2 separate regions of the Homo sapiens genome follow, and region 1 is linked to region 2. The links come from fine-mapping of genetic effects on gene expression. A gene starts in region 2. The other region holds a variant in brackets. All regions are shown on one strand. Distances are from middle to middle. Region 1 overlaps ARHGAP15 (Rho GTPase activating protein 15). Region 2 holds the start of ARHGAP15 (Rho GTPase activating protein 15).

Region 1 (8,352 bases), 120 kb after region 2:
AAAGCCATAGCTTTTCCCAAATTCTTACATGTTTTTAGCATATGATCACAGTGTCTATTCAATTTTTAAGGGCTGCATCATGGTTAAGAACAGTCTCTGCAGTGACACTGCTTGGATCTAAATCCTGGCCCCTCCTTTTCTAGCTGGGTAACCTTGAGGAAATTTACCTAACTATTCTGGCAGGTTTTCTTACCTACAACTTAGTGATGATAATACCTACCTCATACAGTTGTGAATGTAAGATTTCACAGAATCATTTGGTTAATATTTATTGCACACTTATTTTGTGTCCATGTGTTAGCCACAGTGCTGGGCCCTAGAACTCCAGAGGCAAGGAAAATACGGAATCTTCCTCATTTTAGCCTTAGACTTCTGTATAATTGCCCACAAACTCTCTATGATACAGAGGTTATACACTAAACGAATTATCAATAATTGTTGTACGTAGGTAAGTACCTGGAACATAAAAAGTGCTTCTTAAAATAATTATACCTTTTTAACCCCCTGACTTGACTGTATGGGAAAAATAAGCCATTTTGTTACGTACTCTTAATGATTATTTTCGTTGGTTCTGAGTATCCCCTAATGTAATTAAATCTATAAGAAGCATGTTGTTGTTAATTTTTCTACATCATAAATCACTTGACAAAGACTATCATTATCATGCTTTGAAATCTAAAATAGTGATCACCTGGGTGGCAGAGCGTGGGTGAAACAATAAAAACTTTTCACTGATCAAAATCTCTTTAAGGAGCATGGCTCATTTTGATGGGTTTCTCCTGAGGTTACTAAATAACAACAACAAAAAAGGTAGATATGCTATCAAATTCTATCCTGCCGGCTGGGTTTATCCTGTAGGAAAGTTATACAATGTTTCAAAAAAAAATTCAGTTGCCAGAAAAAAGTCTCATAATTTACCATAAAAAAACAAATTTCTGGCTTCTGAAAAAGCCTATTTATGTTGAACTTATAGAATTGGATATAATGGCTAAGAGGCAACAAACATGGACAGAATATGTTTTTAAAACATATTTACCATTCTTTCATAATTTCATGTTTTATCCTAATGTTCATAATGTTAAAAACATTGGCTAAAAATATAATAAGCTTCATATACTAAAATTCTGAAGTATTTTATGGACAATGACTTGAGAAAAGTATGGAATCTACAGAGAAACCTAGAAAATTTATCTGTGGAGAAACTTCTTGAAAAAATAGTAAAGAAATTCTCAACTGGTAAACTTTTTAAAAAATAATTGGCGGTATGGAGGTATGCCAATGTAAAGTTGTATAAGTATGATTAACTTGAATCAAGTGAAAATATGAAAAGACAAATGTGGGTGATATTCCTATTGATTATTGTGAATTATTGAAATAAAAAACATCTTTTAAGTAATACCCACATTGTAATTGTGTAATAGGAAGCACACATTTTAATCCTTTTGGTCTAAGTTAAATTTACCAAATGAAATTATATTTGTGTGTATAGTCTTAAAGTCTGAAAAGTGAATTTCTAAAAGGCATAGTTGACACTTAATAAATATGTATTGAATTTGCTAACATGTGAAACACAAACCTGAAAGGGGAATTGGAGATTAATCCACCTGCTCAATTTTCTAGATGATGTAGTCAGATTCTAAGCAACTCTACTATAGTCGCAAAACTAAAACTCTGTAACAGTTTTTTGCATTGCACTATGATTTATCAATTTTTTCTTTTACTGTTAGGTCTAAAAGTAATATAACTTAACATGCTTTTATGTTACTTTAGACATTGAAGAGCAATATTCCATATTACTAAATAGCAGATTTTAAAACTTTCATTATTCTTAAATTACTAAAGAATACCATCTCAAAATATCAGTATTCTAGATATTAATTTTTCCTATGGTTTATAGTTAATTAAATAATTTTAAAAATAAGTCTGTAATTTTAGACATTGAAAAAAATTAGGTCCCAAATGAAAATTCCTACAAATTAGGTTTCCCCTGGGGAAAACAAAAAAGGCATTATATCATAAATATGTATAGCTGCTAACTCAATAAACTCCTATTTCTCTGACATCTATCTACAGTGTTGCATCCTCTTATTCTTACTTCATTTTTGTGATTACAGAAAACTGGGCACAAACCAGAAAGTGTGGATTTGTGTGGAGCACACATTGAATGGGCCAAGGAAAAATCGAGCAGAAAGAATGTCTTTCAGGTAAGAATGTTACATATATTCAATTTATTCCTATTCTCTCTAAATCTGAGCTCTCTTGGGTAACTAAAATAAGACTACCTTCTTGTGATGTGCTCATGTACATGAACTCGTTGTCTGAAGGTCATGAAAGGCGACTCCTCTTCCCAGTTGAATCTTTGGTTTTGTTGCTTTTTTTCTGGCGACTGGTTGCTATCTAAACACAAAATGTATGTTGCACGTTGATTAATATAAACACACAAAAGTCATTGAAGTTTGCAGTATATGCGATAGATGTCTGGAGTTCAAACATGGGATGTTTGACTTAAGTAGATTTGATCTAGAATTTTCAGATGCACACAAACTAAGACTCACCAAGTATAAGCTATTTACATTCATTGACACTCTTGCCTTCTAGTCATTAATTACATTTACCAGTATAACTTACAAGAATGGAGAGGGCTGAACAGCTATAAAAAATAGATTCTTTCATATTGCTTACTTTAGTTTTTTGAAAAAAAAAGTTGATTAATAATTGCAATCATATTCGATTGAATGGCAAGAACCAGATGAAATCCTTGAGAGAGATAAAATTGGAAAATGTAATTTCACACGTTACCAAAATCACCTAATTGCGTGATTTATCTGGTAATTAATAATTTGAGATCTTGGAGTTTGATTTTTGTTCTATTTTATATGAAATTTAATTTTATATTTCCAAAGTAACCAGTAATTAGATATATTTTAGAATTTATATAATTTAGTAGAAGAGAGATAGAGTATAATAATTATTTTTTAAATTAAATGTCTTCTGAGAGCATGTTGGCCCTTGAATAAAAGTCAATTCTTCTACTCTTAAATGCTTTGCTGAAATTAATATTGGGTCCTATGGAAGCATAGGTAGGTGACATTTTCTACCGACACTCTCACTGAGGGGAAGAAGCTGGTTTCCAGTTCGGTTTGTATTTTCCAGATGCTATTCAGGTATATCCAAATAATTTGGGTCCATAAAATATTTTAACACATTCTAGAATAAATTACTTTTCTGGTTCTAGTTTTATTTTGCTTAGGTATAGAGATTTTTTATCAAACAAGAAAGTGAGAGAATATATGCAATTATTATTTGTCAATTAAAAATAAAATTTAAAAAGGAAGGAAGGAAATAAAAGGGAGAGAGAAAAGATAGAAGAAAACCAAACACGCTTGTCCTGAAATCAATGCTCTAAAGCTGAAAGTGACTAAAATGTGGCTTTACAGAATCAAGAAGGAGAAATAAACTTTCTTTCAAAGGGAGGAACTATAGATCAGTGACTTCCCCTTTCCCCCAATTTCTTACTCTTATTATTCTACCATAAATAACAGTTTAGAGGTTATAATTCTAGCCTTATGACAACTTAGATGATCAACATAAGAAGCTCTGAAGTAGACCGGGAAAGCTCAGTGGTAGAGCCTTATTATGTACTGTGAATTTAGCATCCTAATCACCAAAATTGTAAAAGATGTTGAAATTTGTCATAGACATTATTCTTGGACAATAGCAATTCTTTGGAGATGGGCTAAGCCAGCCTTTTTCAGTTTCTTCTGTTAATCTTATGAAGAGTTAAATTAGTTCACAAATGAGGATGACAGTCAGCTATATTTGATGCATACAGGGCTGAAAATATTGATGAAAAAATTATGTATATTTTTATATAACTATGAACATTATATGCACAGATAGACATTTCAGCCACCTATATTGACAGTGTGTATCATCCCAATCTTTTCAGGATATGACTAATCACCTCCTGTTGCAATTTTCTATTTGATTTTTATATTTTTGAATGTAGATCCTTCCAAAGATATTAAAAACTATTCTCACTTTTGGTAGCTTTCTGAAGGTGAAAATTTTGCCAGCTAGTTTTGTTTGTAATGTAATTGAACAGTTCATGGGGCCTCAGTCTTCTTACAGACGCTTTATTTTTTTTTAGTCTTGTACTTTTAGAGAAACAAGAGGTGATCATAAGGATATTGTGAATAACAAACCAAAAGAAAAGATTCAAGTTTCATGTTCTGTTTCATTCTTTTTGAGTGAATCCCTTGGTTTCCTTGTCGTGCTGAAATCTTTTCATCACCTAAATGCATGAGTTTTGGTAAAACTGACTAATACATATCCATAGATACAGACTATGAGAGTAAGCCTTTTGAGAGGAACAATATAAATAGCTTCTATAGTTCTGTTAACAAAAAAGCGTCGGGAAGGATTTGCCAGAGAGCTAAATCTAGATGACTTGCATCAATATTTGATTAGATACATTAGCTGGTCGAACTCTCAAATGATCAGAATAAACATGATTATGTCTTAAAAACATGGTATTAAGGCATTGTTGGACGTTGGAGTGTATGTGTGCAATGGTTTCATTACCTGCAGAATAATGAAGTGTTTCTTCCTGACTGAAAAAGACCATCATAGCTTCAGCTGATGTGCTACATTGGAAATAGCTTTAGAATTCCAAGTTTGAATTAGGCTTGGTGTTCAATCTCAGTCTATGAATTATAGATTACAGATAGCAAATGACTATTGAGATTTTTGGTTCAAGGAAAATCAAAGAAGAGCAAAATTAGAAATATTTTAAAATTTGAAATCTGTCTTTAAAAAGTTTGATGGATTAGCAATTGTATGCCATGTAATTACAATGTCTGCAGAGAAGTTGAACTTAAAATGAATAGGAAAACAAACAAAAAATTGTATGTGCCTGAGAAATGTTGCAAGTCTCAGAAGCACACATTTGTGACAACCAAAAATGGACAGATTTCATTTATTTCATTTGTTCATATATGCTGTTTGGATGTTTGAGTTGTTTTCTCTTTGTACTGAAATCCAAATTTTCCTTCCTAGTTGAAATCCTATCAAACTGTTGACATGGACTGAATCTTATTTGATTGCTATGTGGAAACATAACAATGACAACATTAATTATTAAGTTTTGGTATTCAACAACTTTCAGTAAATCAGAATGATACTTGCTAAGTTTAAGAATATCTGCATATTTTATAACAGCACACTCTTTGGCCTAATTGGTACTTCTTAACAATAAATAATAAAAGAATTCTATAATAAAGTA[T/A]GTATTAGATGTTATAATTTATATTAAAATATATACATGAATATACATGTATAAAATATATATACTTATATACATAAAATATATATGCAAATATACATATGTATATATACTCTACCTGTGTGTATACACACCTAATAGCTTGACCTTAGGAAATAGAGTAAGCACTTCCACACACAAACACAGAAAGATAGTACACATTTATAAAAGATCATACAAATTCTAAGTTAAAGTGGTAAATGTCCATTGCTGCTAACTTTTGTTTAATTCTGCATTTATGTTCATTGTCAAGGACTGTCACAAGTTTGATGTAGTTCGAGAAACCTTTAGCAACTCAGCTATAACGAGCTGGGTACGCGTTTTCTTAGTTAACAGCAACACTAGGTCTTCATCAGGGATAGAGTGAATAAAAAGATTTATGTTCAAACCACATGTTTTAAACATTCCTGCTAAGTGCTAGTTTGCTCTTTGGTGTTTAGCCTGAAATTTAAAGCACTAAGGATTAAAAGGATTACAACATAATCTTAAATAATCCTAAATGTCATTTACAGAGAGATAGTTGTAATAACTAAATAAAACCATGTGAAAGGATGGCAGCATTGTCAGGCAGCCTCCCTCACACAAGCGGGGCTACTGTCACCTTCTGTTTCCTGGCTGGGCATGTTAGGCAGTTACAGTCTTTCAATAAGAAGTTCAACTGAGAAAATGGCTGCAAAATAATTTAGAACAAGTTTGTTTAAAAAAAAAAAAAACTCTTATATCTTGTTTCTAAGTTGAAGGAAATTTTTCAGTTAGGTTTTGTCTTTTCCTTTGAACACAAACCTTTCTGAGTTAAATATTTTGGAAAGCCTAGGGAAAGGAAGTTCGTGACATGGCTATCAAATAGACAACTGATGTATCTCTAAAAAATTCCCCAATGTCCAAGGAGATACCCCCTTATTAAATATGTGAGAGTCTCAGAGCACTATAATTATTTCCGTGTCATTAAATTTAGTACTTAAATATCCTTTACTTAAATATTCTGTCATGCAAATTAGTCTTGTCTCCCCAAAGAAAATACATAGAAACTATATCCCATACTGTCTTCTACTTATTAAGCCAGAAGACTGAACACTTTTTAGCTGAATAATTGTTACTGCTAAGGGTACAGTTGCATTCCTTTAATAAAACAAAACAAATTCACTCCTATTAAAAAAAAAAAAGTTATTTGTATCCACAATATAGGCCCTGTACTCCAAAATTTCCAGGGTGTAAAATAGGAAGTAAAGATGAAGAAGATAACTGTTTCCTGGGTCTTTTTCATTACAGGTTATAAGACAGCATTATTTATTTAAGATAATTAAATCATTTTTACTCTAAAAATTTACCTTTTCTTAGAGCCAGACAGTGACTGGCCTCAGTTTTCCTGAGCTTCCTTTAAAATAAAGTTTTTAAAAACATACATTGGGCTCTTCTATAGATTTCATGCTTTCAGTAGGATATTTCTGCCAATTAATAAATCATGGCTGATTAGGAATATGTCAATTACCTGTTTGCTGCTTGAAAGGCAGAAAAAATTAAATGACTAAAGAAGAGGAAAGTCTGTTATCCTCCCCCCGCCACCACCAATTTGTAACCTCAACAAATATCATGGTCACATTTCCTGGATTTGAGATTATTTTTCAAGATTCTTTTTCAATATATTAAAAAATAGATCTCGGGGGACAGATTCTGTCCCTAAAAGTAAACCTCGGAATAGATTTATTATTTATATTACTTCTCTGACTTTGGATGGAGTCTTCTGACTACAATGTATATTAAACTTTTTTATGTAATATTCTCCATGGATATGCATTACATTTAAACATAATTTGATCTTTCTGATCTGAATATGTCTTATCTTAAAATGTTTAAGTACTACTTAAGTTTATTAATGTGAAGATAATTTAATAACATCTTAAAAAAACATAATTTTAAGCCAAAAGGAAAACTACTGGTATTGTGCTTTTATCCATTTCCTTGTGTTACAAGTGGTGGTTTAAAATAAATCCGAGCTTTTACCAATTTTCTTTCATTTTTCAGTGCTTGTAGTTAGACTAAATGCAAAAGGATGATTCTTCACATTCATACATGCATTAGATTTCCAGTAAAGCTGGTTTCACTTTAGAGAATTAAAGTATCTTAAAAGACACGGCATTAAAAATAGACCAGAGTAAGAGAAACATTCACGTCTAACACAGTTGTTTTTTGCCCTACAGCTTGTCCCCAATCATTTCATCTACCTATTAGATATTCATCCAACATTCAGGAGGTGCAGTGGAGAGAACACATGGGTCTGGGGATGTGTGTTCCAATTTGGGCTATGTCAGTTGTAACTTTATGCAGAACTCACAGCAGGATCCTCCTCCAACTTTGTCACACCAAGGAAATAAGAGATGACAGTCCTCACCTCACCTGCCCATCTGTGTTAATACTAAAATGAAGCAATCCTGTATGTTTGTTTGAGAGCAACTACAAAGAAGTGATTTTAATACAAATACAGCAGACTTTCATTATTCATCTACTAACCACATCATCTCACAATGTTTTGAGGGAAATTCCAGATATGAATTTTAGAAGAATAGGGTTGAGAGAGGTAAATATCTGTGAAATGTAACTCAAAATTTCTGCTCTACTTCTGGTCTTTCTGTTGCCTTCTGAACTTAATAGACTGATATTTAATACACAACATGAAAATCTTTTTATTGTGTGACTAAGAATATAGATCCTTAATCTTATTTTTAATGTGCTATTCTTAGTGGCATTAATGTAATATCCAATTAATTAATCAATGACATATTCAAATTAATACTTAAAAGCATATCACCTTGAAAGCCCTACCAAGCTGTTAATAGAAACTTGCAAAAGGTAACATAGAAACAAGTGTAGCAACTATGCCCCAAGTGAAAGAGGGACAATAGTGACACTTATTACTCCCCTACTGAGGTATCAGTACAATACTGTTTTTCTGATTGAAGGGAAAGAGATATGATTATTTGTATGATGTTTAGCTTCACTTTTGTTGATGCGGTCACACAGATTTTGCACAGAGG
Region 2 (8,352 bases):
CCATTTCATTGGGAGCCAACTTAACTTGTATTACTGTAGATCTTGTGCATCTCTTCACACACTGGTTGGATATCAGGACAATCCTATTATTGAATTACTTATTCAACTCATTTTCTTATTCTCCAATTGGGATGCTTATCGTTTTCCTATTGGTCTGTATAAATATTTTGTAAAGCTAGATATTTTCTACTAGTCTCTTATTTTTCTATAATATTTGTCTATGTATTTCTTTAGCAGAAATATATAATGTATAGTGAAATACACATATTTTTGCTCTTTTTCTTTTTAATGTAGGGACACTGTTTAAGAAAGTTCCATTTTGCAAAAATATTTTCCTTCCTGTTACTGTGTCAACAGCGTGGTTTGACCTTTCAACTGTGGTTTTATCCATGTGAGGTCCATCTTTCCCTGTGTCTAATGTAGAAGCCCAAATCTATTATCCTCTATTTAGTAAGTATGTCTCACCAATATTATCTGATGAAACAGATCTGTTCCTTTTTGTTTATCTATGATGCTATCTTTGTCATATGTCAAGTTCCCAAATAAATACGCTGATTTTCTGAGCTGCTCCTTGGCCCAGCATTGAAATGTTTTTAATTCTGTGATTTGGACCATGTCAATCTAACATAGAAAATCAACAGTCCTTGATTTTTTGTTTGTTTCAAAATGAGCTTAGGTATTCTTGGACATTTGTTCTTCTAGGAAATTCTGGAAGGAGCTCATTGCATTCTTCAAAAAGTCCAGTTGGAATTATAATTATGATTTTATTGAATCTATTTGTAGAATAATTTAGGTAGATTGATGCATTTCCACTTTTTTTAAAAATCTGTGAACATAGTACATTTCTGTTTATCCTGATCTTCTTTTAATTTCTTTGATATAGATTTAAAATTTAGAGAACTTTCTGGAGACTTGATTTTATGATTCCTAGAAATGATTCCTACCTTCTAAGTTGATCATTCCAGTCAGTGAAAAGGCAAAAGGAATACCAGAAGTAAAATTTTTCCTGAGCACTATTGGCTTAGAGTTGTGCTGCATGCCAAGTGGTTAGGAGCTAGCACAGTAATTGAGAAAAAGGGCTCTGAGGTCAGAGCATCTGCGTTTGACTCCTGGCTCTACTCCTTACTAGTTTGGGCAACAAAGTAACCTCAGTTTCCTCATATGTAAAAATAATACAATAATATTGGCTAGCTCACAAATTTGTTGTGAGGATTAAAAGGCAGAATGAATGTAAAGTGCTTGGTACAATGCTTGGATTATGGCAAACATTCAAAAAATCTTAGCTACTAAAAACAGTGAGCATATCAAGCCACAAGTGTCAAGGCACTGACCTGTAGCCTTAATCATAGTAAGTACCTCTCCTTTTAGAAATCAAATCCAGGGCCGGGCACAGTGGCTCACGCCTGTAATCCCAGCACTTTGGGAGGCCGAGGCGGGCGGATCACCTGAGGTCAGGAGTTAACAACCATCCTGGCCAACATGGTGAAACCCCGTCTCTACTAAAAAAAATAAAAAATTAGCTGGGTGTGGTGGTGCACGCCTGTAATCCCAGCTACTCGGGAGGCTGAGGCACTTGAACCTGGGAATCACTTGAACCTGGAGGCGGAGGTTGCAGTGAGCCGAGATCATGCCACTGCACTCCAGCCTGGGCAATAGAACGAGACTCTGTCTCAAAAAAAAAAAAAAAAAGAAAGAAAGAAAAGAAAAGAAAAAAGAAATCAAACCCAGGCATATCACACTGCCTAAGGGGCTCACCTTCCACCTTATACAAAGAAAAGGGGCACTTGTCTCCATTAACTAATTGTTGATGCCAACAAATATTGTGTCACCCTTAAGCAGGTATTTACATTTATTTATTACCATAAGGGTATATTGTTATTTTATATTTTTCCTAGTCAGATGCCTGATGTTAGTATCTATTTAAAAGGAAAGGCATGGCCGGGAGTGGTGGCTCACGCCTGTAATCCCAGCACTTTGGGAGGCCGAGGCGGGCGGCTCATGAGGTCAAGAGATAGAGACCATCCTGGCCAACATGGTGAAACCTCGTCTCTACTAAAAATACATAAATTAGCTGGGCATGGTGGTGCATGCCTGTAATCTCAGCAATTCGGGAAGCTGAGGCAGGAGAATCCCTTGAACCCGGGAGGCAGAGTTTGCAGTGAGCTGAGATCGCGCCACTGCACTCCAGTCTGGCAACAGAGCGAGACTCCGTAAAAACAAGCAAACAAAAACAAGGAAAGGCCTAATTTATTTTCCTTGTCCTAGACTTCTGAGTCTAACTCAGATTTACAAAGGCTTAAATCAAGCAGAATGTACTGAAGTTCTCTGATGCTTCTTAGGAGTTATCAACATTTCCCAGCTCATGCTAATTTATATATCTACAATTCCTTATGATATACAAAATATATACATCTATTTACTTATCGTGTTCCCCAAGATGGATTTTTTTATGCGGATGTTTCATTACATGGATAAATGAACTAAATTTCAGAGAACTTAAGTAACTTGGCCAAGGTTAAGTGAATAGCAGTGTCAGAATTAAGCCCGGAATTCTGCTTTCCTCACTTTTAATATTATGAACTTTCCATTTTCTCTTCGGTGTTAAGGAGAAGCATTCAGTACAAATCTTCAGGACTCTAAACACTTAAAAAGGTCCTTCCTGAAATGAGAACTGACAGTGAATTCTAGGGTCAATCTGAAATGTGATTTTTAGAAAAAGATCCCAGAGAAATTCAGTTAACTGATAGGGACATGCCATCCCTAACTTGGGCCATATCCACCAAATCTATTTTTAAAGATTGACTTTTAGTATGCCAAACATTCTATACCACTGAGCTCTATTACACAGATTTCTAGTCTAATTGGTTTGTATGACAAGAGATTGTGATTTAACTCTCTCATATATTTGGAAGGAAAGCTTTTCCTCTCTTCCTTTTATGATTAAGCTGCAAATCTCACAAAACCAGCCAAGCCTGAAAATCCAGGAGCTTATTCTTGAACTCCATGGCTCAATAAAGATGCACATCCTAGAGTTATTTCTGAGACCCCTTACAAATATGTCTTGGGTTTGTTGAAGTTTGACACAAGAGGGCATTCAGCAGCATGCCAAAATGATATTGTTTGGATCCTTTATTATAATATATATTTTTTTTCTTTTTAAGTCAGACCACACAAAGAATCACTCAGCTAGAGCAAAAGCTCTTCAGCAGGTTTCAGAACTGCTTAGGAAATTGCCAGAGTGGACACATCCGTATGAGAGCCACAGTCACAGCAAATGCCACAGGGTGTGTTCGACGAGCATGATGAACACCTGCCTTTTCCCCAGATGCTCAGATGGCGGCGTGGCTCTGGGCTGTGTTTTCTGAAGTTCTAATGCAACCCTCCCAAGGCCTGATGAACCTGTTAACTGGATCAGGTTTTGGTGGGTCCTTTCATGAATGAGGCAGAGGCACCAGCTCTGTGAATTGGAGGTGGCTTCCTTGCTTCCAAAGTCAATATGCAGAGTGTCCTGATAGCATGGGAGCATCTCAAGCGTAGCCAGCAGAGTAGACGCTTCATTTTTCAGCCCTTGCTAGAAGGCAGAGAAAGAGGAAGTTTCTTCAGTGCTTAGCAGTCTGCTCCTCCCACTGATGAATTTTTAATCACACATTTTCCTCCCTTAAGTTAAAATTGATAAAATCTCTATACATGTGTCTTGTTTGACAATTGATAATAACATTGAAAAATAACAATATTGTTGACTATACAAGGCAATTTCTTCAAATTGAGTAATGATGTGATGTGTGTGGTTAACTGTCTCTACCCAGGAAGTGGTTTTATTTAAAAGTTTTGTGCTCACCCCACCCCCCGCCTTTTTCTTCCCCCAGTACTGAAATTAAGCAGCATCCAACACAGGCCTACTCTTACGACATGTGACTTTACTGTTTTCCGTTTTTGTTGAAAGAGTCATTAACAGTTAGGAGTTGATGGCAGTTTCAATAACAGGTCATTGCCGAGAAAAGGTAAGTTTTAACTTTATATTGTACATGAAATTTAAACTTGAACATGTTCGGCAGAGTTTCCTACATTTTGGTGTGAACATATAAACATTTCTACAAAATATGACGCTTTTACCTGTGATTAAAACATTGGCTGGTTTCCTTTGATGTAGAAAAGAATGTTCTTTTCATATTTGCAGCTGTCAAATTCCAATGTCTTTTACTAAAATGTTATAATAATAAGATGATTTGCTAAGATTTTGTACTAAAATGTTAAAGACAGAATAAGTTATAAAGTTTTAGTTTGAAGTGCATTTAAAAATAACTACTAGAAATAATGTGAGACTTTGCACCTTTAACCAACTGTTTTATAAAAATATGTATTGTTCAACATCCAGATAAGGAAAGAGAAAAGGGTATAACAATGAGAAATAGCTTGAATTTCAGTGTGAAAGATACTCACTTTAAAGCATTGTATTAATGTTAGCACTAAAAACCCTTAAAAAGGTTACTATGTAGCTAATTAAAAAGCAAGGAGCTTTTAAAATGTAAAGGAATACTGTCTATCATGACACTTGAAATTTTTTTTCTAAATTTCATTTAAGATATAGGGTGAAATGAGTGTAAGTTTCTAATTCATAAGCAAACTTTTATATTTAAAAAAGAAGTCACAGCTGATTTCATTGAAGGTTACTCTGAGAGGAGAGGCAAATTAGAGGTATACTTTTGTTATTTATGTAATTATATAATTTTCCTTCTTTGAAATATTCCAAAATAATAAACCTTAGAAATGAAAAGGATTTGTTAGTCCTAAACTGACATGTAATTTTCTTTTATATTGACTTCTTGCTTTTACAGAATGTCTTTGTGTGCTGTAACATATGTGCAGAAAACATCAAAATATTGCTAATCTCAGAGACAAATACCTAAAATAAATCTGACTGTAGATTTTTGAAAGAATTTTAATAACAGCCCAAGATATGATCCATTCTTCCCTAATATTATTTTTATTGTGCTGCTGGATGGGAGAAGTGATGGCCCCCACAACACCTATTTTTTGTGTTATTAAAAAATGGTTACAGGGTTGATAAGTGGCAACAATTTTCTTTTCTTTTATTGTCTTCTATTGAAAGACACACATAAATGTTTTTTGACATGGTCAATTTAGTAGGAAATTATTAGGCATAGTAGTACACTCCATTTTAAGACCTCTTCAATTGTCAATACTGAAGCTAGCTACTTGTTGACTATTAAAATGATCACAGAAAAATAGAGATTAGGACTTGGTGTTCAATACATTTTTTATTGTTAGCATGTAAGAAGACCCTGGTAATATATATTTGCTTTGATATTGTGATTAGATTTTCAATTTGTTGCATTTCCTCACAATGGAAAGCATTATTTAAATCTGTCTTCAATATCGTGGTTCTGAACCTCTGCATCTATAGAAGCTGTATAATTCTGATAATTTTGGTTGATATGTTATTACTTTCTTTCATTTTATTATAAAAGAATATCAAATGAATAAACACATGCAATACTTACACCTTAGCAAGAATGAATATGCAGATAAACATCTGGCATTGAGGAAAAGTCCATGAAAATTTTTTAAATTGTTTAATGCTTTTAAAAAAGAAATTCACTGTAAAAATGAGTGTTTCTTGCAGAAACTGTTAAATTAAAATACACATATTTTATGGAATATGTGTAAAATTAAGAATGAATTGAAGAGAGCTTGATATGAATTTAGAAAGATCAATGAGTAAAGATGATAGGTAAATTAAAATACCTTCAGAATTGTTTGTAAAGAGCAGTAAGGTACAAACCAAATTTTAAGACAGTTAATTGCAAATAAGTTACTATAGAATTCTATTACTTTATATGTTTTAAGTGGATGAGTCAGAAACAAGTTTTGATGAAATGAAAATAATACGGAAGATTTTATTTGGAAAGTCATATTAAAGCTAATTTGCTCAAAGAATGTCGTGCTTTTCCACTTAGGGCCAGCATTCAGTAAGATTCAGAAAGGAGAAACTCTTTCCTTGATATTCCTCCTGTTGCTCCTTTTTATTATTCTCTTCTGGAGCGGCCTGCTCTGCTCCTAATTTAGAGTCCCATAGACTTGGTACCTAGAAAGATAGACCCTTCCATTCACTGGCTCCTTCCATTCAACTGAACTTTTAAAATGTACTCATCCCATTTTCCAGCACTTAGGGAATCTAATAAAAATAATCCACGCTTATAGGAGAAGGCTACAGAGCTTTGACTTCCTAGCCAGGCCTCCCTTTCTCCCCCCAGTGGAATTTTAATATGTTTCCTCAGCAGACAGGGCCCAAAGGATTAGCTAAATGTTGGATCTCAAGTGAGGAGACTGATGCCATGGTAAATGGTTGGGGGAAGACTTTAGAGGGAGAGTGTTTTGTTAACCATTGGTCCTGCCTGTGGCATTTAAACACAGAATTTCTGGAAGTGTCTCATATGAAGGATCCATCCCAGTGATGTATCCATTTCTTTAAGATAGTCCTGAAGAAATAAACACCTTTCTTGCAGCAGGTAAAAAAAAAAAAATATTGCACTACATTTTCAGGCAATTTTGATATTCCCATACACTTAGAAATTATTTAACATAATTAGTTTTTAATAGATGTATTTTAAAAGTCATTGAACACTCTGAATTTAATTCTTTGGATACTAAAAGCATATTTTTTACACTGTACAATAAATGCTACATAATTAGACTTTAAAATGCCCTTGTAAGTATTCTAAATTTGAGCTTAGAGTGTGCAAAACTTCTTTGTTGGCAAACGATAGAAAATGAGTTCAAACTAGCCTAGGCAAAAGAGATATTCTTTTATGTGTGAAAAGTCTAAGGATAGCAAAGTCAGGAATGGCTGGATCCAGGAGCTCACACAGGATTATCAGGAGTAGGTCTCATTTTTTTCATTCCTCAGCTCTTCTTTTCACTATGCTGTAAGCAGTCTCTAGTGGAAGCTCTCACGAAATTGTCAAGCTCCTACTGAGTTGATCCTTTCAGCAAACTGTGGGGAAAGAATGCTTTTCCCCAGTCACCACAGCAAAGTGTCAGATTTAGATCTGATGGGACTGAATTGGATCACATGACCATAGCTGAACAATTACTGAACTTGGGTGCAGACAGCATGCGTGACCATGCCTAGCTCACAGGCCCACTCCTGCACTGGGGGCAGCTACAGCTGCAGCACTTGGGCTCTCTGCTAAAAAGAGGGGTCTCCTGATGTAGAAATTAAAATGCTTTCCCCAGAAGAAAGGACAAAAGCCTCAAAATTCTACTACGGAGTCACGTATGGTCACATTTTAAACAGTCATTATTTCCCAACTTCTTCAAATTCCATAATTGTACAAAAATACAGTTTTAATTGAAAGGCGGATCTGATTGAAACATGAGTTTGAATTAAACTAAATTTTAAAATATTTTTCAACAGCTACTGTATGTTTGACAACTCCTCACAACATTTGCCTTCTAAAAGCTTATAATCCAGAGTGACTATTATTTTAATAATTATGATGCAAATACAATTTGTCAAGTACCATAAGAAGATACAGAGAATGCTCTATTAGAGTTCAGAAATTCATCCAGCATTTTTGCATTCCTGTTATTTGCCGAGCCATAAACTAGAGAATTTTGTAAGTGTTGTATCATCTGATCACATACTTTCAGGGAGTTCTGGACAGTTTTGGAGGAAAGTTTTGTGGTAGTTTTCAGGGAAATCTAGCACTGGGAAGATGAGAAACATTGCAAGGGACAGGAAGGAAATATGTCAAGGCACAAAAACACGGCGTGTCAGAGAATTCCAAAGTAGTGTGAATTCTCCAGTTTTGTTAGACAGAAGTATAGTAATAAGAGGTAGGCCAGAAAGATAGTGTGAGATCATAAATAGAGTAGACCTGGATATAAGTAACAGCAGGGTTTTTGAGCAGGGGAGATACGTAATTGGATGTCCACACTTTTACATCTTGATGGGTTGTCTGTCTAGGGTCAGGATGTATTTGTTTCTTCCATTTATCTCACTGTGAAGTGACATTTTCTTTGCAGAAGAGTTTGAAGTCAGTGGAGATATTTCTGTAAGGACAGGCACTGACTTACCTGTTCAGGTGCCTGAGGTTCTTATTCAAGTTATGGTTATAACAATCTTTTTTTTCATTTGATGAAGGCCTTTTGTTTGTTTTGTTTGCTTTTAATTTAAGAATAGATGATATAGTGAGATGGTTCAAAATCAATATAAAACCAAAACACAATGTTTTTAGATAAGCTATTTCTTATATTTTTATTTCTATCTATCCCATTTATCCCCATCTTAATCCAACGTAACCACTTTTCATGTTTAATATATATATT

Evidence for each region.
Region 1: its variant is fine-mapped to the expression of ARHGAP15 in whole blood (TOPMed, PIP 0.93).

What each region holds. Positions count from the first base shown.
Region 1 is chr2:143,248,397-143,256,748 of GRCh38, forward strand. It overlaps ARHGAP15 (Rho GTPase activating protein 15), which reads left to right. Exons shown (of 14, transcript NM_018460.4): 6 at 2,115-2,204. Among named protein-coding and RNA genes, the nearest start is that of ARHGAP15, 120 kb to the left of the region's middle. The variant T/A (reference allele first, on the strand shown) is at 5,285.
Region 2 is chr2:143,125,466-143,133,817 of GRCh38, forward strand. ARHGAP15 (Rho GTPase activating protein 15) reads left to right here and starts at 3,954. Exons shown (of 14, transcript NM_018460.4): 1 at 3,954-4,001.